3 separate regions of the Homo sapiens genome follow, and regions 2 and 3 are each linked to region 1. Evidence: fine-mapped expression QTL. A gene starts in region 1. Each other region holds a variant in brackets. All regions are shown on one strand. Distances are from middle to middle. Region 1 holds the start of DGKK (diacylglycerol kinase kappa). Region 2 overlaps DGKK (diacylglycerol kinase kappa). Region 3 overlaps DGKK (diacylglycerol kinase kappa).

Region 1 (10,304 bases):
AGCAGCCTTGGCAATGCAGACCCAAAGCTAGAGGTTGCAGCAAAAATAAAGAAAGAATCATGATTTTACAAATTACCTCAAATCAACTGGATATCAGCTCTAGGGAAACAAAGCAGATTTGTAGATGCTTCCAGAACCAAATACACAGTCAAGGACAATTTTTCCTCACTGGTTAGTTTTACCATGTACACCTATATTCAAACAGCCTTCATTGCTCCCATTACCTTTAAAACCAAATCTTCCAACTCTTCAATCTGATGTTGAAAACCTTTTACATCCCGCTTTCTCCCTACCACTTGCTTCACTCTAATCTCATCTCTCATCAGTCGTTGGTATGTTCCCTCTATCTCAACCAGCCTGGCTCATTCTCACCTCCAGATTTCTATCTTTGCTTCTCTCCTTGTCTGCAATGCCTTTCCACTTCCCCTTTGCTGATCTATGTTAATTGCATCATTCAAGATCCATTTCAAGATCTGTCCCCTTACAAAAAGCTGTCCGTGATTCACTCACAGGATTGCTGATATTTCGTGCTAAAACAGACTTTAGAGCTAGATGATCAAGCTCAACTTTATTCCCACCTCCATTTTTCATACGAGAAAACTTAAGGCCCAAAGACATTAAATGATCTGTATAAGGTCATGTTGAGAGTTTAGTGGTAGAACCTTAATATGAAGCCAGATTTCCTGACTCCCCTTGCAATTTCCTTTCCGCTCTGTCACACTTAGTCCCCACCCACCCCCAGCCCCCCAGAAAAGTACAAAGTGTGGTGTCATGATCATAAACTGGCATCTGTGTTTGGATTGCTTTTCACCTGTATTTGGCTTATCTTGACCACCAAGCTCTAATAATTCTTGTGGGAAGGATCACGTCTAATATTTCTGCCCTTTCTCCTTCCCCAGGACACCTAATAGGGCTGTATACACCACAGACTGGCAGTAAATACCGCTTAACTGTGGAGTGCTTCACTTCAAGAAAACATAAAAACAGAACCAATAAAATGAGTATACCCTGGTTGAATTATTATATTACATACATATTCAAAAATGTTCCTCTAAACAGGGACCTCCTATAGTGAGCTTGGTTGCAGATCATTAACTGCTGTCCAGAAAGAGTGAGAGCTGAGAAACCTCTGCTCCTTTGACAAGCTCAAGAAAGAAAAAGGCATTAAGGCAGCCTTCCCACTCTGCTATGAAGAGGATTTACACAGACCCTGTCTCACAGCCCCCAGCTCACAGCCCTCAGTATTGTGCTCTGGTCTCCCTCAGCTGGAAATTGAGTGACACAAGTTCTAAATGTCTGTTCCACCACTAATTATCTCTGTGACCTAAGACATGGCACTTAGTCTCACTGGACTTGTGTTTTCTCATCTGTTAAAGGGTAGGGGACAGGGGTATGTGATGGAAGTCCGAATTTGCTTGCCTCACACATTTGTTGTGAGGCTGAAGTGAGATAATATATGTGAAAGTACTTTAGAAATAAAAAGGCATTATACAAATGCAAGGTATTAACTTTTTAACTCTCCAATCCTATATCAATTAATCCTAGGAGACTAGAGTGAGTAAAGGTTAACAGGTTTGCATTTTAATCCCAGCTAAATTAATAGTCTGAATCCTCTACCTTCTCCATACATGCTGCCTGTTCTTCATCCCATCTCCTTATTTTATTTAGTAGATTATTATAAAGGTTGCTATTTTGGCTTGGCACATCCCGAGGTAGTACAGTAGGGGAGGTTGGCAGCTGCTAAGACTCGGGAGAGACACTGATTTCTTCCCAAATTGCTCTAAAAGGGAGGACTTAGGGAATTTAAAGCTACTGATCAAGGGGGGAAGGGCTTCCACTCTAGCAATACAGTGCCACTCTCTCATTCAATAATGAAAATGAAATGAAAACAGGAAGGGAGAAGAGATTTAATTTTGTCACATTTCTCAGCTTTTCTCTCCTTTGCCTCTCCAGAACTCTGAGCACGGCTGAAATTGAAGGAGCTCCATGCTGGCTTGGATAAGCTTTATTCTGGGTAGAATCAGAGTAAATGCTGGCAGTTGGGTAAGGTAGTGCATTGCATATTCAAAAGATATGAGCCTATTGTACTGATCGATCCTTCATCCAGCCCAATCAGGTAACTTATATAACATGCCCAAAAGTCCCAGGCTAAGGACCATTTCTGCCCTGGGACATCCAGAACTATGTTCATCCAAGCCTCTGTGGATACGGTCATCATTCCAGATATGTCTGGTTAAAGAAATTCTTATGTACCTCTTTGCCTTTTTAAAAATCTGTATTGTTTAATTAAAAGAGAGCCTCTTAGGAGATCATTAATCATTTGAAATATCAAATAGTGCTGAAAAGCAAGGCAGAAAAATACATCCTAACCAGTAACCTACAATGAATCATCCACTTAACAGACATTTCCTGAATCCTGACTATGACCTCAAGTCCTGGGTTAGGTTGTGAGGAAAATACAGAAGCATCTAAGTAAAACTTTATTAAGAAACCAGCAGGTTATGGGAAAGAGGAAGGTGTAGCTTAGTTACAGCAAAGGTGCCTCCCCAAATCAGGTACCAATCAACCATTCTGGCCATCCCTCTACTCTGCCTCCAATGTAAAGCATGGTATTCAATGCTGGGCTAAGGAACCCCCGACACACACACACAAAGAACCCTTACTATGATATGAGGCAATAAGGTAGCTAATGATGGGCTGAAAAATAATTTTTTAAAACCTTCAAAACTAATCATAATGCAGTTCAGGCAGTATATCTCCAGTAACCTACCCTAATGGAGCAAAAGCCATGTACAAGCAACTATTTTAGCATTCAATCTCAAAATGACCTTGTAGCAAGAGTCTACATCATAAATGTTGGCCTCATTATAATTGAGTGTAGAATTATAGACAAGAGTTTCAATAAACATACATAAAGCAGTAACTCCAAGTTGTCCCCTGGTGGTATCTCGCTTGACAATACACTGTCTATGCCAAACCCCAAGAGGCCATCTGTAACCCAAGAGGCCATCTTACTCTGTGACTGCTCAGCCTTCAGCCCTTCTAACTACATGTTGGGTTTAGTAAAAAGCAAAATTTAAATGTGGGATATCTGCCCCTTCTAAGGACAGGGATTCCATTAAGGTGTGAGAGCCAGAAAAGTGATCTCCAGTCCTGGACTTGCTGGTTGGTCAGATCTGGCACTTTAATGCACCAGATCCAATAATGAGATCTGGCACCTGTATATTTCAGTCCTGAACTCTTAGGGTTAAAGGCGGCTTGGCTACTTGAGTGTGGGATAGGGGAAAGGAGAACAAGCCCAAGGAGGGTGAAGAGAGTGGGCTCCTAAGGTGAATTTACTGGAAGGAGGACTGCCACGTGAGGGAATTGATAGGGCTCACTTCTCCTGGTCTTCCCATCCCCAGAGTTTAAGGACGGTCCCTGCACTAGCTTAGTAGCTGCCAAGCAGTGTTAACACATCTCTGGAAAGGTGGGCTTAGGCTGTGAGGCTGCAGCGAGGATCTGGGAAATGCAGACCTCACCAGAGATTCTGGTCTTTGGAGGGATTTAGGTGAAACTGTGCTCTTATGGTATTATTTATTGCTGAGACATAGTATAGGCAACAGAAAGATGTTGCAGATTCTAGAAAATTCTGGCTAGGTCAGTGTCCGTTGGCAAAAGAAGAGGGAATAGTGGGGGATATGGTCTGGGAGTAGATGGCTAGAGAAGGGGCTGCAGAAAGAAGGCTGCTACCCACAACTGCAGCATTATGTGTATGGGAGATAAATTCACTTGTCATATTTCAAATCAGGTTTACAGGTATTTCTCCCCCGTCCGCTCCCCCCACCCAGCTGTGGCTTAACAGGTAGTCTTCTCAAATTTTAATTACAATTGGTAATATATTGGCGTCTAAAGTCTAGGTCTGACTAAGATGATGGTTTGTGTGTATGTGTACGTGACTATAACAGAAAGAGCTTCTAAAGTCTTCCGATGTGGTGGGAAAGGTGCTGCGCTAGGCATCAGTCGTTCTCTTCCCAAGAGAATCTCCCATCTCTAATGTCAGACTGCTTCAGGAGGTGAAAAGGGTGTGGGTGTTGCAGTGAATTTCCCCAGCCCAAGACACACACACACACACACACAGACACACACACACACGCGCGCGCGCGCGCGCGTTAACAAGTTTGGGGGGGGCGGAAAAACAAACTCCTGCTGATGGCTGGGAAATCCAGCTAAAAGCACAAGGCAGGCTCCTATAGCATAGGCGAGCCAGACAGACGCCCAGATAGCCTCAGCTCCCGAGCGCGAAGCCCAGCTGCTGCCGGGGCACTCTCGACTTGCTCTCGGGGAGGCTGCAGGCTGCGGAAAGCCGGGGCGCCAGCCTCCCTCATCACACTCCTTTCCCGAATCACCTCAAACTCTGTACCCAACGGCAAAGCTCAGAAATGCAAAAAACCGAAGAGGGTCAAATTGTACTTCAATCCAAAGGAGGCTGAACACCCGCCCCCCCCGCACCCCCCCCCCCCACCACACACACACCATGCCGCTTAATTTCTTTTCCCGGCTTAGATAAAAAGCATTACTTGCCCATCGAGGCTTGGAGATGGGGGGCAAGAGGTTGGTCCGAGGCTAAGCTCACCTGCTGCTGAGGTGAGAGAGCAGACACAGGATGGAAGCTATTCTGACCAGCAGCTAAGTGGTTGGGGGATTGCAAAGACCCTCAACTTCGCCTCTGGCTTTTTTTTTTCATTCGTGTCACTAAAGGGTTAAACACGGCAAGGCTCCAGCCCGCCCCCCAACCTCCACGCCGCTCCACTCCCCCTCCCCTTTTTGTCTCTCCCCTCCCCTCCCGCGCGTCGCTAGGAGGTCATCAAGCGCTCTGCCCAGTCCGCGTTCGCAAGCCCCTCTGCTTCCCGCCCATCGGACCCGTGGCTGCTTACGAAGAGGTGTGCGCACACTGAGGGGCGTGTTCCAGCATAGGGAGACGCTGAGCGCCCACGGGTTAGACCTCAGAGCCAAGCCAGCCATGGAGTGGGATGGGGGAAAGTTTGGCACCCTGCGAGGGGCTGCCGGACTGGAGTGGGCGGGGCGCCCGAGGGTACTTTAGCCTTCCAGGCTTAGGGACTCAGGCTGCCCAGACCTGAAGCGGTGTGCGGCCATGGACCGCGGAGCTGCCGCAGCCCAGGGCACTGCCCCGCCTCAGGATGGAGAGCAGCCCGCTGAGTCTCCAGAGCCTCCGCCGCCTTGGCCGCCGCCGCCACCACCACCGGCTCCGCCGCCGGCTCCGCCGCTGCTCTCCGAGGCTTCGCCAGAACCCATACCAGAGCCCTGTCCAGAGCTTGCTCCAGGTCCCTGTCCAGAGGCGACCTCAGAATCAGCCACAGAACTGTACACAGAACCGACCCCAGAACCAGCCACAGAGCCGGCCTCAGAACCGGCCCCAGAACCTGCCACAGAGCCGGCCCCAGAACCTGCCACAGAGCCGGCCCCAGAACCGGCCCCAGAACCTGCCACAGAGTCTGCCCCAGAGCCGACTCCAGAACCTGCCCTAGAGTCGGTCCCAGAGCCGGCCCCAGAGCTGACTCCAGAAGTTGCCCCAGAGCTGGCCCCAGAGCCGACCCCAGAACCTGTGACAGAGCTGGCCCCAGAGTTCTGCCCTGAGGCGGCTCCAGAGTTCCGTCCAAGTCCAGCACCATGTCTATTGCAATGTCCGGTGGACACTCGAGAGAGAGGTCTAAAGACCTCGCCATCGCCATCGCCATCGCCATCGCCCAGAACGCCAATGTCGTGGTCCAGAATAAAGGTAAGCAAAAGACCCCCTGAAGCGGGGAAAAGAAGCAAGGCGAAGTCAGATGGCTATGGAGCCCGCGGGACTCCGGGTACCCCTTGCATCCCGCTTGTCTGGCACTGGCTGGCCAAGATGCTGAGAAAGATGCAGGGATGGGGAACCCGGGGGAATGGGAAGGGGTTGGGAGGCGGGAAGCAACATGTGGGAATCGAGAATGGGCTGTTTGGGGCTAGAAACGGGGGTGACAGCAGGGGGTGGGAATCGGAGCAGTTTTCCCCTTGAAGAGAAGCGACAGTGCGGTGAGCGCCAATATCTTGAAAGAGAGGAGGAAGATACCCTCGGGGAGCGCAAGAGACCTGGAGAAGTGTTTGGGGCTGGCCCCGAATACATAGCGGACGGATTGAGTGGGGGCGGTGGGACACACCTCTTAGCCGCGGTCACTGCCGCAGAGGCCCAAGCTGCGGAGCCTTCGCCTGCTTGGCCCCCTCCCTGCCACTGGGGAGGGGGCGCCTCAGCTGGGCGCAACTGGCGGCCCTCCAGGGAGGTGCCCGGCGCCTCTGCCGGCTGCTTCGAGCTGGTACTCCTGGTGAGGACGAGGGGATGGGCGGCGCCCACGCGCACTGCAGGGGAAGGGCAGGGTTCTCCGGGAGGAGGGGGAGAGCATGCGTGTGTCGAAGCCACCATTCCATCTGTCTGCAGGATTTCCCAGCAGGTAGGTGCAAACGCAGTGATACAATGTTGCGCAGCGTCACAAACGGGGCAACTGGCATCCCGCACCAGGGCCAATTGGAATGGTACAGGAGTCCTGGTTTAGAGACACGAAAATAGGAGTTGGGATTGCAGAACGTGTGAAGGGGAACCTTCATCTCTACCAGTCTACCGCGACGCCTTCTAAATCGTTACACTTAGCCGGGAAAAGATGAGTGGAGAATCTTCTGGCACTCGCCCAAGGGGAGTAGGGAGGAAAAAGGTTTTCGTGTTTACCTTGGACCCTGAAACCCCGTCTGCTCTTAAGCGGGAGTATGCCTGTCTTTCCTGCTTTCTCTGCACTCTCCCTACTCTTCCTTTACCCTAAACTTCGTTCCACAAAACTGAAAACCAGGATAATGCACACACACACCTCAATTTAGCTTCCCCTGCAGGAAGACATACACACGCGCGCGCATTCACACACACACACACACACACACAAACGAATAACACAACACACGAACAATACCGGTCCATCCTGCTGCCTAGCAGACCATAAGGACACGGCTCAGGAACCCTTCTGCTGTGGACCGCACACTTATAGAATGTAGAATGCGGGAGGGGAGGGGGCAGATTGGCATCACGAAATGGAAGCATTGGTTGCTTCCTGAGTTCTTAGTAGGGAGGCTTGAGTTTGCAAAATATCTGCAATGACGAATAACTGAAAAAGAAGGCTAAAATGAAAAGTTTCACAGAGAAAAGAAAGTGCAGAGGTTTAAAAATAAATAAAACATGACGGTGGGAGACTCTGATAAGTTTTTAAAAATTCAACACCCTAGCTCTCACCAGGGGATGTATCCCTCCCCTTCCTGAAAATACCCTTTCCTGCAGTGATCTTAAGAAGGGCAAAGTTGGGGTGGCTAGATTTGGGAGCTCACCCTCACCGGGTGATTGATCTTGTCTTTTTGGAAGAGTTTGCATTAAGCTGGTGGGAAAGAGACAAGCAGGAATCACCTGACCTGTGGCCATCTTAAGCGAAATTTTGGGAACATGGCTGTGAAACTGACACGTGGGGACGTAATACCCAGAGAATGCATCTCCCCTTTGGCCTCTGAAAGGCTGACTGGCGACCAGGACCCTTCCCCCAGTGAAAAGCATCCCCTGCTCCCATGCGAAAGCATCTCCTACCTGTTTGACAGGAAAATGTCATTGCCAGACAGATGAGGAAGATTAAGGTAAGGGGAATCAGATTAGTTTCCTCTACGTAGTGCCCACTCAGACGTGCTGGCTAGCTGACCCACAGACATCTGGCAACACTGGCAGGAGACCAGGATCCCAGGGGTTTGACTTTGCCCTTAGTAGAGCCAGACATTTGTTGAATCACTTATCTGTAGAATGGGGTTAAGAACCACGACCATCCGTTAAGAAGGCCATGCAGATTAACTAATCAGTGGCTCTGGAGAATTTTGAAGGATGTAAAGGATCTAGGTACGTGCTCAAATTAAATTGCTTGGAGCCAAACCCTTTTACAACACCCTCAATGTTGCTATGCAATTGCTCTCTGGTGCAGCTGGGAACATCTGATCTTCAGTGATAGGATCATTCTCTCCTGCATCTTCCTCAGACAAATGGCACCTGCAACCAGCTGGCTTGTATCTTAACATTCAAGGCAAACAGGTTGTCATCTTAGCTGGGGTGATGTTGTTTTCAAACACTGCCTCCTCGAGGCAAGCTTGGGGGGAAAAAACTGTGCAACACGCACAGGCGTGCACACACCCCTAACACACACACATACTATACATATGTGCCCAAAATGTCAGGGAACAAAACAAAATACAGGTCTCATCATGCAATGAAATCCTCCATAGCAAGCATGAAACTATCCTGATAATTCAAAGGATGAAATGAGCAAAACCAAGTGTTTGAATATGACTGCAAGTTTCTCCCAGATAATTTTGTTGACTGGTATTGTAGCAAAAAACCAACATCTTTCAGCCTTGTAGTCTGCTCTTTTTTGGAATTTCAGGAAAGTTTCAGAACCTGCAATTGACTGAGAAAAGGGGGCTCATGTTTTCTTTTCAAATAGCTACCAGGATAACACAGTCAGTCTGTGAACCAAACATGTCTATTTCTTTCCTTTCTAAAATGTTTCAATTCCCAGGAAATGAGCCATGGTCTCCCACCTGGTGGCAGCAAGTGTAAGTAAGGATGTGTGAATTGGTTCTTTAGCAATGCTATAACTCTCTTGGGGGAGGGATGGGGCTTATATGAAGTAGACCATGTTTCTTTCTCTCTCATCAGCTGTGCTTGAAGAAAGACAAAATTTTGTTTATTCATTGGGTTTTGACCAGCTATGAAATGAAAATCACATCATACAAATGATTGATGAAAATCTGAGGGGAGATACACTTTCATGGCTTTTGGGGGAGATAAAAGGGGTCTGTGTATCCCTCCTGATGACTGCACAGTAATAACCATTATCCTCAAACCATATCAGGACAGCTTTTATGCACAAAACTGATATTTTTGTACATTTTCTTGCAAAATAGCAAGCATTTGTTTATATGATATCTGGTGATTCCTATCAATATTTTATTAGTGATTTCTGAGCTTCTCAAAAATAGGGGTGGCCTTTCTCAGTGCCTAGTTCAATGCAGCCCTCCTTGATTTTGCTTAATAAACACTTGCTGAAGCTTGAAAACTATCCATTTCCAGCAATGTAGAGGCTGCTGCTGTGAATGAATAAAAATTTGTTCTCATTGGTTTCAGAGTGAGAAGTAAATACTTATTTAAATGGCATGGAATATATAGCCCTTAAGGAAATACAGTCAATCTTTCCATTTTCAGAGTGGTTATTGGAACTATAATTAAGAAGCAAATTACTAACAATTTTTATTAATGGCTTGGAAAGTGTCCTTATCCCATGCAGTCCCAGCAGCAGCAGACTAATAATGATATTGTTAGCTTCAGGGGATAATAAATTTTTTTCCTAAGTGAACAGAGTATCTGCAGTGACTGTAAACAGATTTGGGATTATAGATTCAGATGTTTAACCTGTTGAAGGTCAGAATGAAATTACTTTCTTTTCTCTTCAGTTTTTCCCCCCTCCTTGCCAAGCTTTGATGATACCATCTGATTTATTTGGTGTATTCTAATAGTTCCTAAGCAGTCACTACAGGGTGTTCTAGAAAAGATAATGAAGTATTGGTCAGTGGTCTTTAGTTTCTCAGAGTACAATTCTTATGCACTTATTAAAATCTCCGACTAGGGCTTCTGCAGATCTGCAGCCCAAAGGGAAAGTGCCTCCAAGGAAAGGCAAAAAAAAAAAAAAAAAAAAAAAAGAAAAAAGAAAAAGAAAAAAATATCCATAGAAACCAGGAAACCATTCAGGGGTATTCTAATAAGGATTATATAGTTCCTTCTGCTCCTGTGGCACTTTACAGTTTACAGAGTGCTTGCCTCTGCATTATTAACCCTTTTATTTCCTTGAACAAGGCAGCAGGTGGGGGAGGGCAAAAATAAAACTTGACAGCTTATAGGATGTAATGATTGAATTTTCTATTGTAGATTTTTTTAAAAATCTGACATATGGCCTTTTGTGATACATAGGATCCTCATTTGTCTAAGAACAGTCTTTTAGCTGACATTTCATCAGCTCTGAATTTTTTTCCAAAGCGGTGGTTGCTGCTCCACTTCTGATGCTCCCAGAGGGGGCCAGCATAGAAGAGGAGCCAGAGAAGAAACGAGAAGAGGCAGAGACCCTGAACCGATTACTCACAAAGACCTTTTTTGTTGGTGCGTGTGTGTTTTGTAAAGGAAATAAATTGAAATCCTGCTAAGGATAGGGTGC
Region 2 (10,304 bases), 90 kb after region 1:
TTGGAACTGAGCAGAAGTCCCATGCAGCAAGGAAGTCCCTTTGGCTGGCCCTTGACTTTTAGCCATGGTGCCTTGCCCTGCCTTGGTACCTTCACGTACAACCTCAGCCAAGTTTCCTAGAAAGAAAGAAAATCTCCCTTCTGCACAGTGGAAGGATTAAACAATCAATTTGCCTCTATTTCTATAATTAGTTTCCAAGCAGTGTGGATCAGATTAAACGGATGTAGCCATAACTGTCGCAACCAACCCTCAGTCTGCTCCATCAACACATATGTTAGATTTAGAGGTGTAGCTTGTGGCTATGAGATAGGAAAATACCTCCCTGGTAGGGGTAGAGATTGAACCTATGAGCTTTGACACAGGCTGAGACTGGGCATCTCAGCTATACAACATTTGGCTGGTGAAAGGAAAGAGACTTCCCAAATGTTCCAGGTGTGGAGTGAGACATTAGAGTGAAAGAGTGGCACAGTCCTAGAGGCTCAATTATAGACAAAAGCCACATAAGTAAATGAACTAATAGAATGGAGGTAGAAGAGCAGAGAGTTTCCCATGCTGATACCCCAATCCACAGCCACAAGCTTCTACTCACAACCACATGTACTGGGTGAGAGAAAAAAGAGTAACCAGTAAAACAAAGAAAGCTCAGGCATGAATATGAAAAAACAGCAACACTGTAAGCAAGCTGAGACTACAAACAGTATCATGGAGGAGACGTGATGGTCGAATGGGAGTCTCCATCATCTACCCACTAACTAAACAAAATAGATGCTCGATAAATGTTCAATAAGTGTAATTAATCTTTCCTTCCTTCCATCCTCCCTCCCTCCTTTCTTCCTCCCTCCCTTCCTCCTTTCTTTTTTGCTTTCCTTCCTCCCACTTTTCTCTATAGCTCTGGATGAGGAAAGCAGACAGACAATATCTGTTAAGAACTTTAGTTCAACTTTCTTCCTGGAAGATGACCCAGAAGATATTAACCAGACAAGCCCACGACGCCGTAAGGATCTTTCTGTCTTCTTCCCTTATTCTAGCCTTCGTCACTGTTGTTTAGCTCCCAAAGAATAAATATGTATTTTTTATGCATCCTCTTTTAGCCATAATCCTGCAGTAGATACCCCTCCGTCTTTCCCAGAAACTCACACTATAAGATCCCATGCCAATGTCCAGAGTAATGACCCCATTAGGAACATTGAAGAGGCTGGCCTGATGAAATACAAGATTTGAAGTTGTTTTCACTGCCAGCAAGCAAGCAGCCCAGCTTTATTCTTCTCTCAGTGGAAGTCCCTATCCATCCAAGAGGATCCCTCTTTGGAATTAGAACCCTTAATATTATCTAGGAGAAAGTCACTGAGCTTGACCCTGCCTCCACAGAGAAAATAGGGCGAAATACAAGTGAGGGGAAAGGGCTTTTTTGTTTGTATCCGTCACCCAAGTGATGTCTTTTGTGTCTAGGTTCTCGTCGTGGCACTTTGTCTTCTATATCTTCTCTCAAAAGTGAGGACCTGGACAACCTTAACTTGGATCACTTACATTTTACACCTGAATCTATGTAAGTATTTAACTCTATCACCTTTTAATGGCTTCTTTCTTTCTCTTGTTAAGAGCACAATCTTAGGATATCCATAGTCAAATCCTTTCTCTTACTTACTAGCTGTGTCACCTACGCAAGTGACTAAACCAGTGTGAGCCTCAGTTTTCTCATATGTAAAATGAAGACCATTGTAGAACTTGCATCATGGGTTTGCTGTATTTATTACATTTATATATGAAAAGTACTTGCACTGAGTAGTGCTTGGCACCCATAATTAAGTGTTATATGCATTTGCAGTTATTATTGTTATTATTATAAATAATTAATAAATGTTAGTTGTTGTTATTACAGAGGACTTGCTTTTTTTCACTGTTGCCCTTAACAGTAAATGGTTGAAGATACTAAAAACTAAAATGGTCACTAGGGGACTAGGCAGCAAATCTAAGGACATCTGTCTCACCAGTTCTCCCTCTTTAGAATATCGGCAGCAGCCAAGTTCTGCCACACTCACTCATTCTGAGTTCCATTAAGAAGATCAGTTTGGACATTAGTTAGAGAAACTCCAATCTCTGGACTGTGGTTGAGGGAGGCAAATCTCATGTGAGAGATGTAAGGTCAGTATGGTAATGAATAAAAAAGTAATCTAAGATTAAACAGCTAAACTGTATCCATTTAATTTCTCAAAAGGACACAGCTAGAAATTATTTATGTTTTCTTAAATAATTTATTTAAGAAAACAATTTTTATTCCTGTCTCCAACCCGCATTCTTGCCCCCACACTTCACCATTGGCTCAAATTTATGTCTGAGCTCTCATGGATCTACCTAATGAATTTTGATCAATAGTGCACTGGCAAAGTGTTTAACAACCTCCTCTCTTGGGGGAGAAAGCCCTGATTCATTTATGGTGTAAACCCTTCCACCATGGCCTATTTAAGTTAGTGATATAATGCCATTGAATCTGGAGTTGGAAAGAGATATGCATAATCAGTTTACATGAGCTGGTGCCAACTGGCTATGGCACACCACTGGTTTTGATGCTGACACCCTAGATGGACACAGGAGACTTGACAAATAATTTGGCTTTTTTGTTATGTACATATCTACCCTCTTTTATCAGTCTTTCCTTCCAAATGTGTGGTCATTTTCCCCTTTGATGTCGGACATCACTGAGAGCAGTTGTGCAGACTTAACTGTCATGGCACGTTTGTGTCTAGGATATTCAAAAGTTCTTTATAGGAGTAAACAGTATTTCCCTTAATACTACATATGAAGAAAATATGGGCCACTCATACATAAGGCCTCCAAAGATGACTAAAATCATCAATGTTGCTTCTTTATTATGAGTTCCAATCCCACTGAAGCTTCCCAACTGGCGAGGCACTCCCTCTTACAGCTAATAAGCTAGTTGTTCACACAAAAGGATATCTACATGTGCCTCTCAAAAATGTTATAGTTAGTGCCCAGTGTGGAGGGGGCCTTCCCTCACTGGTTTTCCATCATGCAGATTCATCTTCATGCCCAATTGATAGCGGCACTTCTTTCCTGCACCAATGTCTGTCCTCTTCTTTGAATAATTTCAGACGCTTCAAAGAAAAATGTGTCATGAACAACTACTTCGGAATTGGACTGGATGCTAAAATTTCTCTGGACTTCAACACCAGAAGAGATGAACACCCAGGGCAATACAAGTAAGGAAAAGAAACTCCCTTCCCTACATGCAAACACACTATCACAATACACATACGTATTCCTACATTCTCTACCTCTCAGACAAGCAACAGAAAGAAAGGGACCCACTGGAAGTAAAATGCATTGGCCCCAAGACTAGTCTAGCGGGACAGTGTGTGCCAAATTTTGGATGACTGCACTGGCATCCTAAACTTGAGCTGCCTTCAAATCCAGACCTGTGGATTTCTGTGTAAACACAGCTACCTGTGTTACTGTTACTGACAACAGATTATGTTGACTCAATTTAGCAAATCGCCCACCTTTGTTCTGTCTGTGAAAGTTTAACCAGGTTTCAGTAGTGGCTTCAGATCTGTTTTCACTTGACAAAGTTGCAAAGTATCAAACATCCCTCTATTTGTTTTTGGTGTTCCTAACCTGGTTCCCCTGAACCCGTTAATTTTACCCTATCCAGTGTTGGCCTGCATGGCACCTTCTCGCACTTTCATACTTCAGACAAGGCCTAAGTCAGTCTCAGAGTTCTTGTGGTACATTGAAGCTATAAGTAAAAAGTGTGACACCCCACCCCACAACACCCCACCCTTGCCACCACCACTAGAACCTCTTTCTCAAAGCAGGCCTGGGCTGAGAAACAGGAACTTTGTCAGATATGTGATTTGCAAATATTTTCTCCCAGTCTCTTGCTGGTCTTTTCATTTTCTTAGTGGTATCTTTGAAATACAAAAGTATTGAATTCTAAGGCGGTCCAATTGATCAGTTTTTTTCTTTATGGACCATGCTTTTGGTGCCATCTGTAAGAAATCTTTGCCTAATCTGAGATCTTAAAAATTTGCTCCTAAGTTTTCTTCTAAAGTTTGTATTGTTTTAGCTCTTATTAATACATTTAAGTGTATGATCTACTTTGAGTTAATTTTTACGTATAGTGTGAGGGTCTAAGGTAAGAGTCTAAGTTTATCTTTTTGCCTGTGGATATCTAATTATCTCACCACCATTTTAATTTATTTATTTGTTTATTTTTTTTATTTTCTTGGAGACGGAGTCTTGTTCTGTCGCCTAGGCTGGAGTGCAGTGGCATGATCTCGGCTCACTGCAACCTCTGCCTCCTGGGTTCAAGTAATTCTCCTGCCTCAGCCTCCCAAGTAGCTGGGACTACTGGTGCATGATACCATGCTTGACTAATTTTTTGTAATTTAGTAGAGACGGAGTTTCACCATTTTGCCCAGGCTGGTCTCGAATTCCTGAGGTCAGGCAATCCGCCCGCCTCAGCTTCCCAAAGCGATAGGATTATAGGCATGAGCCACCGCGCCCGGATCTAGAGCCATTTTTCAAAACAGCTATCCTTTCCCCAGTGAATCGTGTTGGCACCTTTGTCAAAAATCAATTGACCACAAATGCAAGGGTTTATTTCTGGACTCTCACTTCTGTTCTATTTATTTATGTGTCTATCCTATGCAAGTACCACACTATCTTGATAACTATAGCTTTACAGTAGTTTTTGAAATTGGGAGATGAAAGTCCCCCACTTGATT[C/A]TTTTTTTCAGAATTGGTTTGTTCTAGGTATTGTACATTTTCATATACCTAAACTCCTATTTTTGTAGATGAGAACACCAAAGTGCCCAGAGAATGAATGGTTTAAACAGTGTCTCAATAATTTTGTGCTAGCCTTCTGACATTTCAAAACTCATTCCATGTGATGATGGCTCATTTCTGTGGCTCTACTTTACAAGCTCCAAGTAAACTATATCCAGCCTTTCTAGTGATCGTAAGTGCCCCACCTATTTCTATCAGAGATTCCACAGTCAACAAGACGCTGTCCTCCCCACCTCCACCTCAAGTCACCTGATATCCTTTCCTGTCTCCTATTTTTCTCCACTGGCTCCTCCTCTAAAATCTCCCTACAAGCTTAGATCTGTTCCATGGCATTGAATTAGGCATTTAGTATATGGATCTGGTGTTTGGAAAAGTACTTCACTTTGCCAGAAAAGTTGCTGCTTCAAAAAAAATTGCACTCTAAGAGTCACGTGTTTCAAATGAAATTGATTCCAAGCAGCTGAAATCTCCTGGAGTAGCACAACTAGGGTAGCTGGTGTGTACCAGCCAGCTACGCTCATAGCTTTTTATGAGCATTGATGTCTGAATATAGCCTGTTTCTTCCAAGTCTGGACCAATATTGGTAGCAAGCAGAAATGGAAAATTTATTTATTGATAGGATACTGAGGCTTCAAAGGGGCCCAGGAACCCATTTCTTCAAGTGTTTGCATTGGATATCAGTTACATTAACCGCTGTCCAGTTGCCATTTAGCATGACTCCTCTCTGTAAGAAGGCATTTGAGAAGTAAGATGGTTTTCCTTCCTGTCTTTTTCCACCATTTATCTATATATCATTCACCCTCTGCTTTCTTAATGCTTACCTCCATGTAGTAGCCGCCTTAAGAACAAGATGTGGTATGGCCTTCTGGGAACCAAAGAACTTTTGCAGCGCTCTTACAGGAAACTGGAAGAACGAGTGCATTTGGAGGTTAGTGGAAAAGCGGGTAGTCTTTCCTGGGTATGGAGAAAGGAAATCTCATGGCCTTGGGAATACCGTACATGCTGATTCTTCCTGAGCTTTAACTCTGTGATCCTCACAGCTCATGGGAGGAAGGCATGAAGATAGATTTCCATGTAATGGAAGAGAAGACAGAGCCCTTTCCCCATCTCTGTAAATGTTCCTTCATGTTGCTATCTAAAGATCCAGCTAATGAGAGCTACTCTTTTCTTTCAGTGTGATGGAGAAACCATCTCCTTGCCAAACCTGCAAGGCATTGTAGTGCTCAACATTACCAGCTATGCTGGAGGTATCAACTTCTGGGGAAGCAACACAGCAACCACGGTTAGTATGGAACAAGGAATGGGGAGGAAGAAAGGCATGATCCCACTAAGGTCTCTCTGAAGGAAGCATTGTGCTAACTGAAGTGAAAAATAGACAATGGGAGAAGAGGAGGTGGTCCGAGAACCTTTATTAGCAGCAGCTGTATGATCAGTTTTTCAGGCAATTACCATCCGAAAGCAGAAAATTCAACCAAAGACCTCAGGATAAGGTCAACTCGTAGGTGTTGCCTGGGCTTTGGATTTTCCATTCCTCGGGTCTGACAGATCCTTTAAAGGCTATCTAGACCATGCTTTTTTTTTTTTTTTTTTTTTGAAACGGAGTCTTGCTCTGTCATCCAGGCTGGAGTGGCAAGATCTCAGCTCACTGCAACCTCCGCCTCCCAGGTTCAAGTGATTCTCCTGCCTCAGCCTCCCGAGTAGCTGGGATTACAGGCGCCAGCCACCATGCCCGGCTAATTTTTGTATTTTTAGTAGAGACAGGGTTTCGCCATGTTGACCAGGCTTGTTGACCTTGAACTTTTGGCCTCAGGTGATCCACCCACCTTGGCCTCCCAAAGTGCTGGGATTACAGGTGTGAGCCACTGCGCCCGGCCAAGGCCATGCTCTTTTCTCCAAGGAATTCTGTCAGTAAAATCTCCTGGGATGCTGACCATGACCCCTTTACTCTGAGTTTACCCAAGAAGGTCATAAGGCCAATAAGACTGGCCTCAGGTATTTATGATGCTGGATTGGAAAAGGAGGGAACTGGCTAAGAGTGCAGTACCCTTTTCCCAGATTGGCTTTCTGACCTCATCTTTTTCCCTTTTAATAATGAAGTGTTTCCACTCTTCATGAGCTAGAAAAATTCTCACCAGGAGCCTTTAAACATGCCTTCTTGTTATAGACAGGGTGTGATTTCTCAAGGGTGGGAGATGTGACACAGTTCTTCCTCCTCAGGAATATGAGGCTCCTGCAATCGATGATGGGAAACTGGAGGTGGTGGCAATCTTTGGTTCTGTGCAGATGGCAATGTCCCGTATCATCAACCTGCATCATCATCGCATTGCCCAGGTAGGCAGGGGCTGGGTGGGCACTGGGAAGGGGCTGAGGTTTTTGACTGCTACCCAGGATGTGGGATAGTCCCAGGAATTAACTGGGTAGAAGAATGCCAGGGTGGAGTGAGCAGGTTATCTGGTGGGCAGTAAAGTGCTGACTGAGGTTGGAGGCAGAGGTGGCAGAAGCCAATGGAGCAAAAAGCCCATAGGAAACAGGCATTTCTTCCTGGGATGATCTGATTCACATCCTTTCCAGTCCTGCTTCAGATACACATTCAAGGCCATAACTATGAGATTATCAGATAGAGTTACAGCAGTTGCCCCATTTTTCTCTCCCATTCTTCCTCATTTTCTCTGGCAGTGCCATGAGGTGATGATAACCATTGATGGTGAAGAAGGTATCCCAGTGCAGGTGGATGGGGAGGCCTGGATTCAGAGACCAGGCCTTATCAAAATTAGATACAAGAACGCTGCCCAGATGCTGACAAGAGATCGGGTAAGGGGGAAAATCTTGTCTTGGGCTCCTATACTGCCTCATCCATAGTCACTTGAGTACTGAATATTTCCACTCAAGCAGAATTCCTCAAAAGGAGGTCTGTGTGCCCCTGGCATCAGAGTCACTTGAGATGCTGGTTATAAATGCATTCTTGGGCCCCCACACCAGACCCACTGAACCACATAGGGTTGCATAGTTCCCAGGAACCCAAATTTGCAAACAGGCTCCTCAAGACACTCTGATATATACTGACATTTGCAAACACTGTCCAAGAGAGTGAGACAAGGAGCTTCCTCCCCTGGTTTTCGACAAGGTTATCCTCCTCTTTCCACTGCAAAGAGAGCTAAAAGCGTCAGATGATTATGGAAAAATCTTCTCCTTCAGCAACAGATTCTGCATTGAACATGGTCTTTAGGTGTCTCTAAGGTTCCTTAAAATGCTGCATTAATACATGTCATCCACTTCAGCTAAAGCTTCTAAAGCTTATAAAGGAGCTATTATTGATCACATATTCAATGCTTGGAGGTTATCTTGCACTCTAACCTGTGAAAAGTCCATGGAAACAGCAATAGAGAAAGGAAGAGAAGTCCAGTTTATAAACTGCCTATTCTGTGCTAGGCATTTTACATTTCTCTCATGTAGGTTCTCTCCACAATCTTATGAGGTGGATACACTTATTCCCATTTTACAGATGAGGAAAATGAGGACCAGAGAGGTTAAATAATTTGCTAATGGTCACACAACTAGTAAATGACAGAAACACGATTCAAAATTAAATTAGATATGTTTGGCTCTAAACTGCATCACCACATATTGCCTACATTTGGCAAAGAAGGGAGCATGAAAGGTGCTCCACTGTCTTGTCAGTCATGATGCCTTCATATGGGAGCTTCTAGAAACCAGACATGTGTATGATCCAAGCCTGGTGTCCCAAAATCCAGCATACTCAGAACAACAAAAACTAAAGGGCATAGTCCAGAAGAGATTGAATAAAATGATGGATACTTGTATAGGTATATAGATGGGTATGACAGGGGGAATGGACAGGGGGCCCTCCTTCCCCTCTACCCACTGTACCCACATACCCATTGCCCACAAACGTCAGGCTCACAGACAGATCTGTCATGTGCACTAGTAGCTACAGCAATCATTAGGATATGCCACTGTATTCATCTCCAGGACTTTGAGAACTCAATGAAAATGTGGGAATACAAGCATACTGAAATTCAAGCTGCCCCTCAACCCCAGCTGGACTTCCAGGACTCTCAAGAGAGCCTCTCTGACGAGGAGTATGCCCAGATGCAGCACTTAGCTCGGCTTGCAGAAAACCTCATCAGCAAGTAAGTGGACTGGCCTAGATACAGGGCTGAGAATCCTAAGAAGGCATAGGGAGAAGAAGCCAATTTGTGTCTATTGGCTACTAGGGAGCCTGGCCTCAGAGAGGAATTTAGCTTAGAGCTCTAAAAATTGAGCGGGACCCTCACAATCCAGGCAGGAAATATTCTCTGTGCTCAGCAATAAGCCAGGTTAGACATCTCTCATTAGACCCAGGGATTAATTTGGATCTCTTGTTGCTAATCCAAACCCAATAGAACTAAGACTGTTTACCCTTGCCCTTAAATATCAGGAGGGCCTTGGAGTTCCTAGAGTCAGCTGCCCTCCTCTGTTCTAGCCTTCTACCCTCCCCAAATTCCCAATATCTAAATTCAGGTGAGACAAGGATGGGTAAAGGTAAATACCTAGAGAAGAGTAGAAACATTTGCTAGCATAGGTGGCTACCTAGAGAAGAGCAGAAATAACAGGAGGGAGTCATGAGTCCAAGTCAGGTACCCAGGGCTTTCACTTCTACCCTTACCCAAACCCTCACCAGTGCCCCAGGCCAGAAGTCCTTCAGAAATCCCAACTCATCTATCTGTCCTTGCTTTATTACAGACTTAATGACCTGAGCAAGATCCACCAGCATGTGTCTGTCCTCATGGGTTCTGTGAATGCCAGCGCTAACATCCTGAATGATATATTTTACGGCCAAGACAGTGGCAATGAGATGGGTGCAGCTTCCTGTATTCCCATTGAAGTAAGTAGAAAGGAGTGAATTAAGGAAAGGAGTCAAACCAGATAGGAAAGAGGATGAAAGGGAAAGAAGTGGAGCCGGAGGCTGGACGGAGAAACTGGGCAAATATGGCAGGAAACTGATGGAGAGAGTGGACGGGAAGGCAGGCATTCCTTGACTTGTTACAGGTCCAAGGTGGTTGCTGGGGGAAAATCACAGCAGATTTCATCAGCCTGAGAGCTAGCCCTCTTCCCTGATAGCCATCCCTCCCACCAGCTTCAAGGGAGAAATGGACAATAAACGAAGAGAAACTTGTACTTGGCCCTTCCTTATCACAAGTAGATCTCTGTATAACCTGATAAGGGAACACCTGTCATTGGAACTAGAACTTCCGGGTGCCTCGGTTTTCCTCTTGAGGGAAAGGTCCATATCAGGCAGGACACTTAATGTTAAATGTGTCACCCCATGGCTTTGTCCACTGCCAGAATTGTTAACTGATGCTTTTAAAAAGTAACTTTAGTGCTAGGCGAAAGATATAATTGTGTCAGGGCCTGATTACAGTTGGAGGAGGCCTACAACTCAAGGCCTGGAGTTGCAAGAAGAGAGATGTTAGGCCCTAATTTCACCTGCCCTGGAAT
Region 3 (10,304 bases), 68 kb after region 1:
CTGCATGCACACGTTGAGGAAAAACCACAAGAGTACACAGTGAGAAGGTGGCCTTCTACAAGCTAGGAAGGAAGCCCTCACCAAGGACTGAATTGATTGATACCTTGATCTTGGACTTTCCAGCTGTAAACTGTGAGAAAATTAGATTTCTGTTTTTAAACCACTCAGTCTATGCTATTTTTTATGATGCCTGAGCAGACTAACACAATTTCTTTCCTCAGTGTATCACTTCCCTATCACATATTACTATAAACAGCAAAGAGAAACCAAGATGCACCTCTTATACTTTGCTTGGAAATCTCCTCAGTCAAATATTCAAGTTTATTGCTCACAAAGTCTACTTTCCACCCAACAGTAGAGCAAAATCAGCCATGTTCTCTGCTACCTTATAAAAGTATTACCTTTCCTTTAGTTTCCAATATGTTCCACATATTCACATGAGGCCTCATCAGAAACACCTTTAATGTTCATATTTTTAGAAACACTCAGTTCAAGGCAATCTAGGCTTTTTCTAGCATGTGTCTCAAAATTCTTCTAGTCTACCCATTACCCAGTTCCAAAGCCACTTCCACATTTTTAGGTATTTGTTACAGCAGCACCCCATTTCCCAGTACCAAAATCTGTATTAGTTTCCTAGGGCTGCCATAATAAAATAACTACAAACTGGATGGCTTAAAACCAACAGCAACTTGCTGTCTCACAGTTTTAGAGTCTAGAAGTCCCAAATTAAGGTATCTGCAGAGCCATGCTTTCTCTGATGACCCTAGGGAAGGATCTTTCTTTGCCTCCTCCTAGCTTCTGGTGATTGCAGGCAAACTTTGGCATTTTTTGGCTTGCAGATGCATCATTCCAATCTCCACCTTCATTGTCACCTGGTGTTCTCCCCTGTGTCTGTGTGCTCTGTATCTTTACAAGGTGTTCTCCTCTTTGTGTGTGCCTGTCTGTGTCCAAATTCCTCTCTTCTTATAAGGATACCAGTCATTGGATTAGGGCCCGTTCTAATCCATTATGGCCTCATCTTAATTTGATTATATCGGTTAAACCCCTATTTCCAAGTAAGGTCACATTCATAGGTACCAAGGGTTAGGACTTGAACATATTTCTGAGGGGACACAGTTCAATCGCCACACATACTCATCCAGGGTGGGAAGCATCAACTTTTTCTTACAGAATAGGATGTACACAAGGAATATAAATTCCATCACCTCAACTGCTGAACCTAAGTAATGTCCATTTTACCTATTCCTTTGTATTCTGTAGGCAATTTAGATGATGAAATTTAATATTATACCCAGGCAGAGCTCTGAATTTCTTCCACGCAGTCCTGTGAAACCTTGCACATTCTAGAAGAGCTTCACTTGTCACTCTATACAGGAATGATCTGTTTTAGAATTTGTTTCCTCCAGTAGACTATAAATTCCTTGAGGGAAACAACTATGGTTTATTCATCTCTGCATCTCCAGTGCCTACCATGGTAGATGATACATAATAGGTTCTTAGTAATTATTGGAGGAGAGGAGACTGGGAGGGAAAAAAAAGATGCTTGTAGAATTACAATCTAGTGACTTGGGGAGTAGAAAGGTTCTAGGAGCTCAAAGTGCCAAAGCCAAGAGTATGTCACTCCCTCAGGACTCTCCATCTTCTATTCTAATCACCCTAGAGCTTTCCAGTGTCTTAATGTACAATAAACATTACAATCACAAAGCAATCCCAGAACATGTGAGCCTTTAGTTCATCAAAATAGCTTTCCCTTCCAGAAGGTTCCAGGTTAAATCAACAGTAGCTTAGCACGTAACCAGCATGCCAGAAGTGGGAAGGAGTGGTCAGAGAGGGCAATGTGCAGGCTATGTCTTGGATATCTAATTCATGTAAATTGATCAAGGATGAATACTTAATGTGCTAGAGCCCTCAGTAGCTAGCTCTCTCTCTCTCTCTCTCTCTCTCTCTCTCCCCCCACTGTCAACTGATGTCAGAAAGAAAATATAGTTCTTTTTAAAGTCTTGTCATGCCTTTACACACCCAACTCATTATAATGTCAAGAATGAAAAGCTCTGTGTACGCCTATGTCTGAACTTCAGGGGAAGGCAGAGAAGGAGAAAATCAGACATTCTCAGGAATTAGTGAAAAGGTGTAAGAGTCCTTGGAGTTTTTTTGGTGCTCACCCTTCCCTTCTTTCAATCTCAAAACTGTTGCTGGTATACCCTTGCTTTCCCTACAGTCATGAAAGTCAGGCTGTGAAATACAAATGCAGCATTTAACAAAAAATGTTAAGGCACATTAACAAAAAATGTCAAACTCAGTACCATGAAAGAGGACACCAAAAAGAATGCCACTCCATGTAGGCAGGGGTTGTGTCTTGTTCACTATATCTCAAATGCTTTGAAAAGTGCCAAGCACAAAGTATTTACTCAGTAAATATTTGTTTAATGGATTATTGGATGAATTAAGCTGATTAATCAGGAAACTGCTGTAGGCAGTCAGAGCGTGGTATTCCTAAAAGAATACTCAAGGGATTCCTAAAAGAATCCCCTGAGATGAAACTGTCGTCCAGGTAAAGCAATGCTCTGCTCACCTGGCAGCCAGGAAGGAAAGTGTATACCTCCAGGAGGTAGTTAAAGCCTTATTATAATATTCCCTAGCCCAGAGTCAGAGCCTTACCTCCTGTCTTTATTCCCTGGCTAGAGAACCAAGGCCAAGGCTAAGACAACACATTTTTGCTTGAACTAAGACAATAGAGTGATTGGCCAAGCAGTATAAAGATCATTACTCCTGGCCGGGCACAGTGGCTCACGCTTGTAATCCCAGCACTTCAGGAGGCCGAGGCAGGCAGATCACTTGACCCCGTCTCTACTAAAAATACAAAAATTAGCCGGGCGTGGTGGTGCATGCCTGTAGTCCCAGCTACTTGGGAGGCTGAGGCAGGAGAATCACTTGAATCCGGGAGGCGGAGGTTGCAGTGAGCCGAGATTGCGACACTGCACTCCAGCCTGGTGACAGATCAAGACTTCCTCTCAAAAAAAAAAAAAAAAAAAGATAATTACTCCTGCCTTCAGCTTCTATTCCAGGGTCTGCCCCTCTATTATTTTTCTTTTTGAAACGACTGGCAAAACAAACAAAAACGCACACAAAGTATCCCAGGTCCCAGGTATTGGCTCCAACTTTCAGTCTTCCCCTTCACACGCTCTGACACCTATACAGCAGGCCATTTTAGACTTAGCAGCAGATTTTCAGGCCCTCTTTAATCCGTCTCTGTGATTCATCCTCCATTCTCTCTTCTCGTTTATTTATTTTAGATACCTGCAGCAGAAAACAACCCTTTTCTTGTTGGAATGCATTGTTGGTACTCCAGTTACAGCCACCGGACCCAGCACTGCAATGTTTGTCGAGAGAGCATTCCTGCCTTATCTAGAGATGCCATCATCTGTGAAGGTACCTTTCTGATTCCTTTAGGAAGTGAAGCTCAGTGGGTAGATATAGGGATGAAGGAACTCATGTGGCTTTAGTATCATTAACTCATACTAGGTCACTGACTCTGGTGTGAGGTTAACCCTGATTGAGGAAAGAAAAAGGGAGGAAACTAACATAAAGGGGATGAAAATAGAAGGATGAGTGTGGGGGGATGGGACTATATTATCACAAGTGTTAAAAAGACAGAAATCACCTCATTCTTACCATCAATTTTCATTCAAGTTGGATAATAAAAAGATTAGCCAGTAAGAATAAAAAGGAACTGGATCCTATTGGAAATAGGTTTTTGGAGGTGCATTAGAACTATTTAGAATGCATCTGTGTTCTAACTTTCAGAGCAGCTTTGGGAAGAGAATTAGAATCCTCACTGTCACCAGATTCACACCCATCTTTTCTCTTCCTCTTCTCACAGTGTGCAAAGTGAAATCTCACAGATTGTGTGCTTTGAGAGCAAGCAAAGACTGCAAGTGGAATACATTGTCTATCACTGATGACCTCCTTCTGCCTGCAGATGAAGTAGTAAGTACTAGCCATGTCTTCCCACAGTCGGCCTCTCCCATGTCCCCTTCAACCAGGATACACAGGGGGAGGAAGACTTCTTCCTAACTCCAGATAAGCAAAGTCCTAGGCTCACAATCCAACTTATCTGGAAGAATGAACCTCCCTCCTCCACTTGTCATTGTTCACTTGCATTGGAGTAGGGAGGGCAGGGTCATTTGGGTCATTTACCTAATGTCCTCCATGGAGTAGTACAATTATTCCAGTTGGCCCTTCCTCTCCTTATGTCTCTAACTTCTACCTCCTGTGTCTTTTTACCCTTCTGCAGAACATGCCCCATCAATGGGTAGAAGGAAACATGCCTGTCAGCTCTCAGTGTGCAGTGTGTCATGAGAGCTGTGGCAGTTATCAAAGACTTCAAGACTTCCGCTGCCTGTGGTGTAATTCTACGGTAAGACTCTTCTCATCTTGATATTTAGAGAACTTAACTCCTGGCGAGGGAGTGGCTTAGAGCTTGACCATGTATACACATAGATAGAAATCTAAGAAACTCTTATCTCAAAACAGGTTAAACAGATTCCATAGTATAAATCTTAGTATCCTGCCTTTCCAGATCTGACTATGGAGCCTTTCTTTGGGAGAAAGATTTAAGACCATCTTTGTTGCTTCTTAATTGGTGAGGCCTACTAACAAATGGGAAAAGCTGAGCTCTCTAATGGCAGTATGGGCAATTAAAAATAAGTTCTGAGTCTGCCTTTGAGAAACCTACTCCCTTTCTCATTCACTATTTCCTAGGAACTTGTAACCTTTATTAATTAAAAATGGTTGATAATATTAACACATTATTATTGCCACTATATACTGAGTGCTTAATATACATGATCTCATTTATTCCTTCCAATAAGCCTAAACCGGGCCTCATTGTTCCCATTTTACAGATGAGGAAGGTGAGGGTCAGAAAAGTGAAGGGGTCCAAGGTCATTTGGACCAATTTCATTTGTCCAAGGTCATTCAGCCAGTAAGCAAGAGTCTTGATTCATACATAATTCTGCAAAGACTATGCTCTTTTTTGTTTTGTTTTGTTTTTTGTTTTTGAGACAGGGTCTCACTATGCCGCCCAGGCTGGAGTACAGTGGCACAATCACAGCTCACTGCAGCCTCAAACTCCTGGGCTCGTGTGAGGTGGGCTCCTCTCACCTCAGCCTCCTCAGAGTAGCCGGGACTACAGGCACATGCCACCATGCCCAGCTAATTTTTTAATTTTTTTGTAGAGACGGAGTCTTGCTATGTTGCCCAGGCTGGTCTCAAACTCCTGGGCTCAAGTGATCCTCCTACCTTGGCCTCCCAAAGTGCTGGACTTATGAGCATAAGCCACCGTTCCCAGCCGACCACACTCTTAACTACAACACTACCATGCCTCTAAACCAGTGGTCCTCAACTGGGGGTAATTTAGCCCCCCAGGAGACATTTGTCAGTGTGTGGAGACATTTTTTATTTTTGCAACTCAGGGTGGAGGGAAGCGCTACTGACATGGAGTGGGTAGAGGCCTGGTATTCTGCTGAACCTCCTACAATGCACAGGTCAGCCTCTCATAACAAAGAACTATCTGGCTCAAAATAT[C/T]AGTAATGCTGAAGTTGAGAGACCCTGATCTAGATTTCTAGCCTTTTAGATGCTTCTCCAAAACTGAGTTTTCTAGACAAGAAGAAACTGAAGTATGGGCTTCTTCTTAGAAGACTCTGGTTGTCCTCTGTTTTTTTTTTTCAATTGCTTTTGAATAACCAGGCCAGGTTCATTCCCCCTAGAAAATGTGTAATTTTCCAGGAAGTGGCACTTGAAGATGTCAGAAATCTGGAAAGAATGGCCGCTTGTGGGAAAGGCAGCAGAGTCTCAGCTGTCACTTCCCAGCTGTTTGACCTTGGGCAAAACCCTTTACCTCTCTGAGCTTTGGCATCTTCATTTTTAAAATGAATTCAATAGTGTTTTTTCTACCTCACACACCTGTTGTTATAAGGATTGAAGTGTAATATTAGATTATTATTATTAACTCTTTTATACTGCATGTAAGTTCCCCATTCTGCAGGCCACTAAGGTTGTGCCTTAGAACTGGTGATTTCTCAGTGCCTGTAGGTGGGTATCTTCTGAAAGCTACCTTTGAAAGGACCAGAGTTCTGAGGCCACACTGAGAGACAGTGTAGGCTCAGAGTAGAATGGGGGTGTTCAGGTGAGTTAGGGATATATGTATGGCACCAAATCTCAGAAAGGGAGATTAAATACTAAGAATCTAAATCTTGGTATTGGAACTCAAGACTGATCAATGATATCCTTTTCTCTCCCCCTCCTTTTTTTTCTCTGCTCTTCTCTTGTCGTTTCAGGTGCATGATGACTGTAGGAGACGGTTTTCCAAGGAATGTTGCTTCAGAAGCCATCGCTCATCAGTCATTCCTCCCACTGCTCTAAGCGACCCCAAAGGCGATGGTGAGTAGTTAAATCTTAACCTCAGAAGCACATTGGGCATGTAGGGAAGGTGCAAAGGCTGGGAAGAAGCACTGCAATTAAATTATTCTCCTCAACCAGTCAAACATTTTGGGGAAGTAGGACTGTGCATGTGTATATAGATAGCTCCTGGTTCTCTTACCTTTGGGATTGTGAATGTTGTTCTTTCTGGTGTATATGTATGTGGGCATGTTCTCTGTAGCTCGGTCACAATTGTTTCTGATCAGAATTGATTTCAGCTTTTTCATGATTTCCAAACACTGGATAAGTCATTAAATAAGTTTGTGTCCAGGTGGTCAAGGAAGAACTTCATGAAGGCCAGGTTATCTTACTTTTAAAATGGAAACAAACACCAATGTTGTTCCTAAATATGAAACTAACATGATCATTACCCCAACTTCACTGATGCTTTGTCAATTCCTGGACTCTAGTGATTTATTAAGAACTCTGTTCTCAAGGTGTCTGAAGGCTACAGAAAGATCTAAGACATGGGCATTGCCAGAGCTATTGATTATTGTGGATTCAGGCTACTGATATAATACAACAATTAACAATTTGATGTGTCATATGCTAAGTGCCAAGGGAATGGTAGAGACATTTGGAAATGAGAAAACCTTAGAAATATTAACCATTTATAGGAGGTTGAGCGGAAAGGAGGTAGTAATGAAATCAATGCAGCAAGAATAAACTTTGTATAGAGTCTTCTATCAAGAGGTCTAGCAATGTTAGAACAAAAAAAGCAGAAGCCAAGAAGAAGGGTATTTTGTATAGTTTTTGTGTTTGTTTAAGAATAAGTAAGACATGGAGGTATCATGACGTAAGGAAAAAAAACAAGAGCTAGGCAATTATGAGCTTTAGTTACTTACTAGATATGTGATGTTGGGTTAGTCACTTACATTCTCTGAGCTTTGCTTTCCCCATCTGTAAACGGGAATGAAGCTATCTATTGTGAAGATAGATGATAATATGTGAAGGGCCTAAGTATCTAAAAACATAACCTCAAAGGACCATAAAATTAAATCCCTCAACTTCTTGGGCAACTAAATATCTAGTCTCCTAGCCTAATAAAAAGTGCAGACCCCACAGGGATGATTCACTCTTTGGCACCTGCCTTTTGAATTCACCTCTCCTTCCCTACTTTTTCTTTGTTTTTTCTGAGAGACTCTCCTTTTTGCCATTGACTTGTTCATTTACTTCTCCCATTACTCATTATTAAAGAGTGGGAACTGTCAAGATCAAAATCATATATCACAGCTTAAAAGACCTAACCTATTTTACTAATACTAAGAGATTTAGAAATCTAATATACTTACCACTGACATACTACTATTTCACTAAGCCAGGGAAGAGATACACTGCTCATAAATTTCAGTTTGTGTATGATTAGTTTCACTCTATATATGGTCAATTTCACTTACTGGAGGAAAGTTCAAATTCTTCCTGGAATGTTTTAATCTATATTTCTCTAATTTGCTAATTTGTCCATCTCTGACGTGTGGGATATCCACTGGTCCAAGAGTGATTAGTGAGCCCTCGTTTCACTGACTTAAAAATTATCCCCACATAGATGCTAGTTGCTCACTTCACTGCCAGGGAAGAGCCAGCATTAGCTGGAAGCAAAGAAAGGAAAAGAAAGAAGAGTAGATGGTTTCCTTAGAGAACAGAAGGGGGCAAAGATTCCTGTAGCCGTTACAACATAGTTTTAGAACTAGACATACCACATGTGTATGTGCGTGCTCATATATATGTGCACGCGTACACACACACACACACACACACAGCCACTCTAGATCCTTCCGGTTATTTTTCCAACCCTAACACAGATATAGCTAGACCTTAGTACATGGAATGAGCCATTCATACAGGTTTCTGCAGGCAAGTATACTCATATGTCCCCATAATAACATGTAAAGACACAAAACTGAATTTCACTCAGGTATACATGCATATATTATTCTCAGATCTACTCAAATAGTTATCCATATGGAGTCACCCACCAGGTAGTTGACCAAAGAGGTGATGAAATTGATGACTTAGTAAATAAGAGATACTTGCCTAGTTAGGAGAATGAGGGACTAGGGGAAGATGCAGTTGATACAAGAAGAAAAGTAGCAAACTGGTCAGCTGAGCAAAATCAGGCTGGTAGTGAAATCAACCTAGTTTTGAATCTGAGACATTTTGCTCACCCCCACAGGGACCTGACAAAGATGTCTTTAAGCAGATGGCCCACCTCAGCATGCCACAAATGACCCCAAATAGGTGTTAAGAGGGTTGCCGCCTCTCCTTTGTAACTGGGCCAAACATGTTCTGTGCTTCCTGTCCTTGTGTTGGTGTTTTTAAAATTTATTTCTTCCTATCCTATATCACTTCTTATGCTTGTTATAGCTTGTCAAATAATGGCATTGTTACTTTCTTCTTCTTTCCACCAGTGATATAATATTATTGCTTAGGAGCACCTGGGCTAATCTATTCTTTTTGTTTGGTGTCTTATTTAATATCCCATGAGTTAGCTTTTAACTTTTCCTCCTAGTCATCTGCAATCTTGATCCAATTGAATCTCACTCACTGCCAGCCCTTCTTTCTATCATGCATTACTTGTCCTAGAACTTCTTAGAAATGTCTTTCAAACTTCCCTATCTTCTTGACTCTGTCTTCCTGGCTTCTTGGCTGTGGCTTTATGCCCTTTAATGGGTAAGTTTCCTACTGGAAGGTCCCATCCCAGAGGAATCTTTTGCATCTTCCAGTCATAGAATCTTAGCCATGTGAGGTCCTTAAAGATGGTCTGGTTCAATGCCCCCTGGCTGAGCTAGAGAATCCTTTCTTCAGCACCCAGCTGAAGTCATGAGGGCATCCAGCTCATGACTTTCTGAGAAGGCCCTTGCTAGCGTTGAGTCACACCCATCTGTTCACGTATATATTTATTCAGTCAGTAGACTCTAATTTCTGAGAATTCCTTCCAATTATCCCTTTTTCCTATCCAGTCTGCTTGGTATATTCCTTCTCTTATCCTTTAGGGTCCAGCTCAAAATTAAACATTGTCTTCTCTGTTTGACAGCTTCTGTAATGGCCTCTTCCCACTCTCCCAAACAAATCAATTACTTCTATGGCTATAAACCAAGAAGACATATCTCAAAGCACCTAACACATGACATTATAATGGTGTCCATCTTCCACCCCAGACTGTGAGCTCTCTGTATCCTTAGCACTTGACTCAGACCTGGGTATACGGTATACACACAGTCAAGATTTGTTACATGAATTCCTTAATACATTTACTGAATACTGCCTGTATGTAAGGCTCAATGCTGAGCAACGACTAAGATAGCATCACTGGCTCATATGGAGAAAAAATAGTGAAGTGCAGTGGTTGTTGTATCAGAAGCATCTGAAAGGCTTGTTAAAACACAGATTTCTGGGCACTACCCCCAGAGCATTTGATTCAGTAGATCTGGGTGGGGCCCAGGAAATTGCATCTCTAACAAGTCCCAGATGTTGCTGATACTACTAGTCCTAGAAACACACTCTATCATTTACTGTATGCCCCTGGACAAGTTACTTAACCTCTCTGTGGTTAATCTGGCATTTGTTTTCTGCCAATAAGGAATAACAATTGTACTCAGGTGTGTCATGAAGGTTAAATGAGTTGACATTTGTAAGGGAGGATTTTAAAAGTACGGGAAGAGAATGGTAAGCCAACCTATGCCAATTTCGCATCTTTCTTTGGAGTGAACAGAATGAATTTGAGTGGGACTGTTGGCTCCCTGTTTAGGGCACTATGGTTATATTAATGCAGCTCAAAGAAACATGAGCTTTTTTTGAAAGGTTCTTTCAGGCTGTTGACTCAT

The links. PIP is the estimated chance that this variant, and not a neighbour inherited with it, causes the effect.
Region 2: its variant is the best candidate, but not a certain one, in a credible set for the expression of DGKK in whole blood (TOPMed, PIP 0.62).
Region 3: its variant is the best candidate, but not a certain one, in a credible set for the expression of DGKK in whole blood (TOPMed, PIP 0.64).

The regions. Positions count from the first base shown.
Region 1 is chrX:50,465,509-50,475,812 of GRCh38, reverse strand. It overlaps DGKK (diacylglycerol kinase kappa), which reads left to right and starts at 4,988. Exons shown (of 28, transcript NM_001013742.4): 1 at 4,988-5,779. The coding sequence starts at 5,135. RefSeq lists an enhancer at 5,028-5,825.
Region 2 is chrX:50,375,410-50,385,713 of GRCh38, reverse strand. DGKK (diacylglycerol kinase kappa) reads left to right here. Exons shown (of 28, transcript NM_001013742.4): 16 at 890-994; 17 at 1,450-1,546; 18 at 3,111-3,218; 19 at 5,637-5,733; 20 at 5,980-6,087; 21 at 7,023-7,136; 22 at 7,482-7,616; 23 at 8,796-8,956; 24 at 9,549-9,690. Among named protein-coding and RNA genes, the nearest start is that of DGKK, 90 kb to the left of the region's middle. The variant C/A (reference allele first, on the strand shown) is at 4,746.
Region 3 is chrX:50,397,174-50,407,477 of GRCh38, reverse strand. DGKK (diacylglycerol kinase kappa) reads left to right here. Exons shown (of 28, transcript NM_001013742.4): 5 at 3,294-3,429; 6 at 3,881-3,987; 7 at 4,295-4,417; 8 at 6,339-6,441. Among named protein-coding and RNA genes, the nearest start is that of DGKK, 68 kb to the left of the region's middle. The variant C/T (reference allele first, on the strand shown) is at 5,587.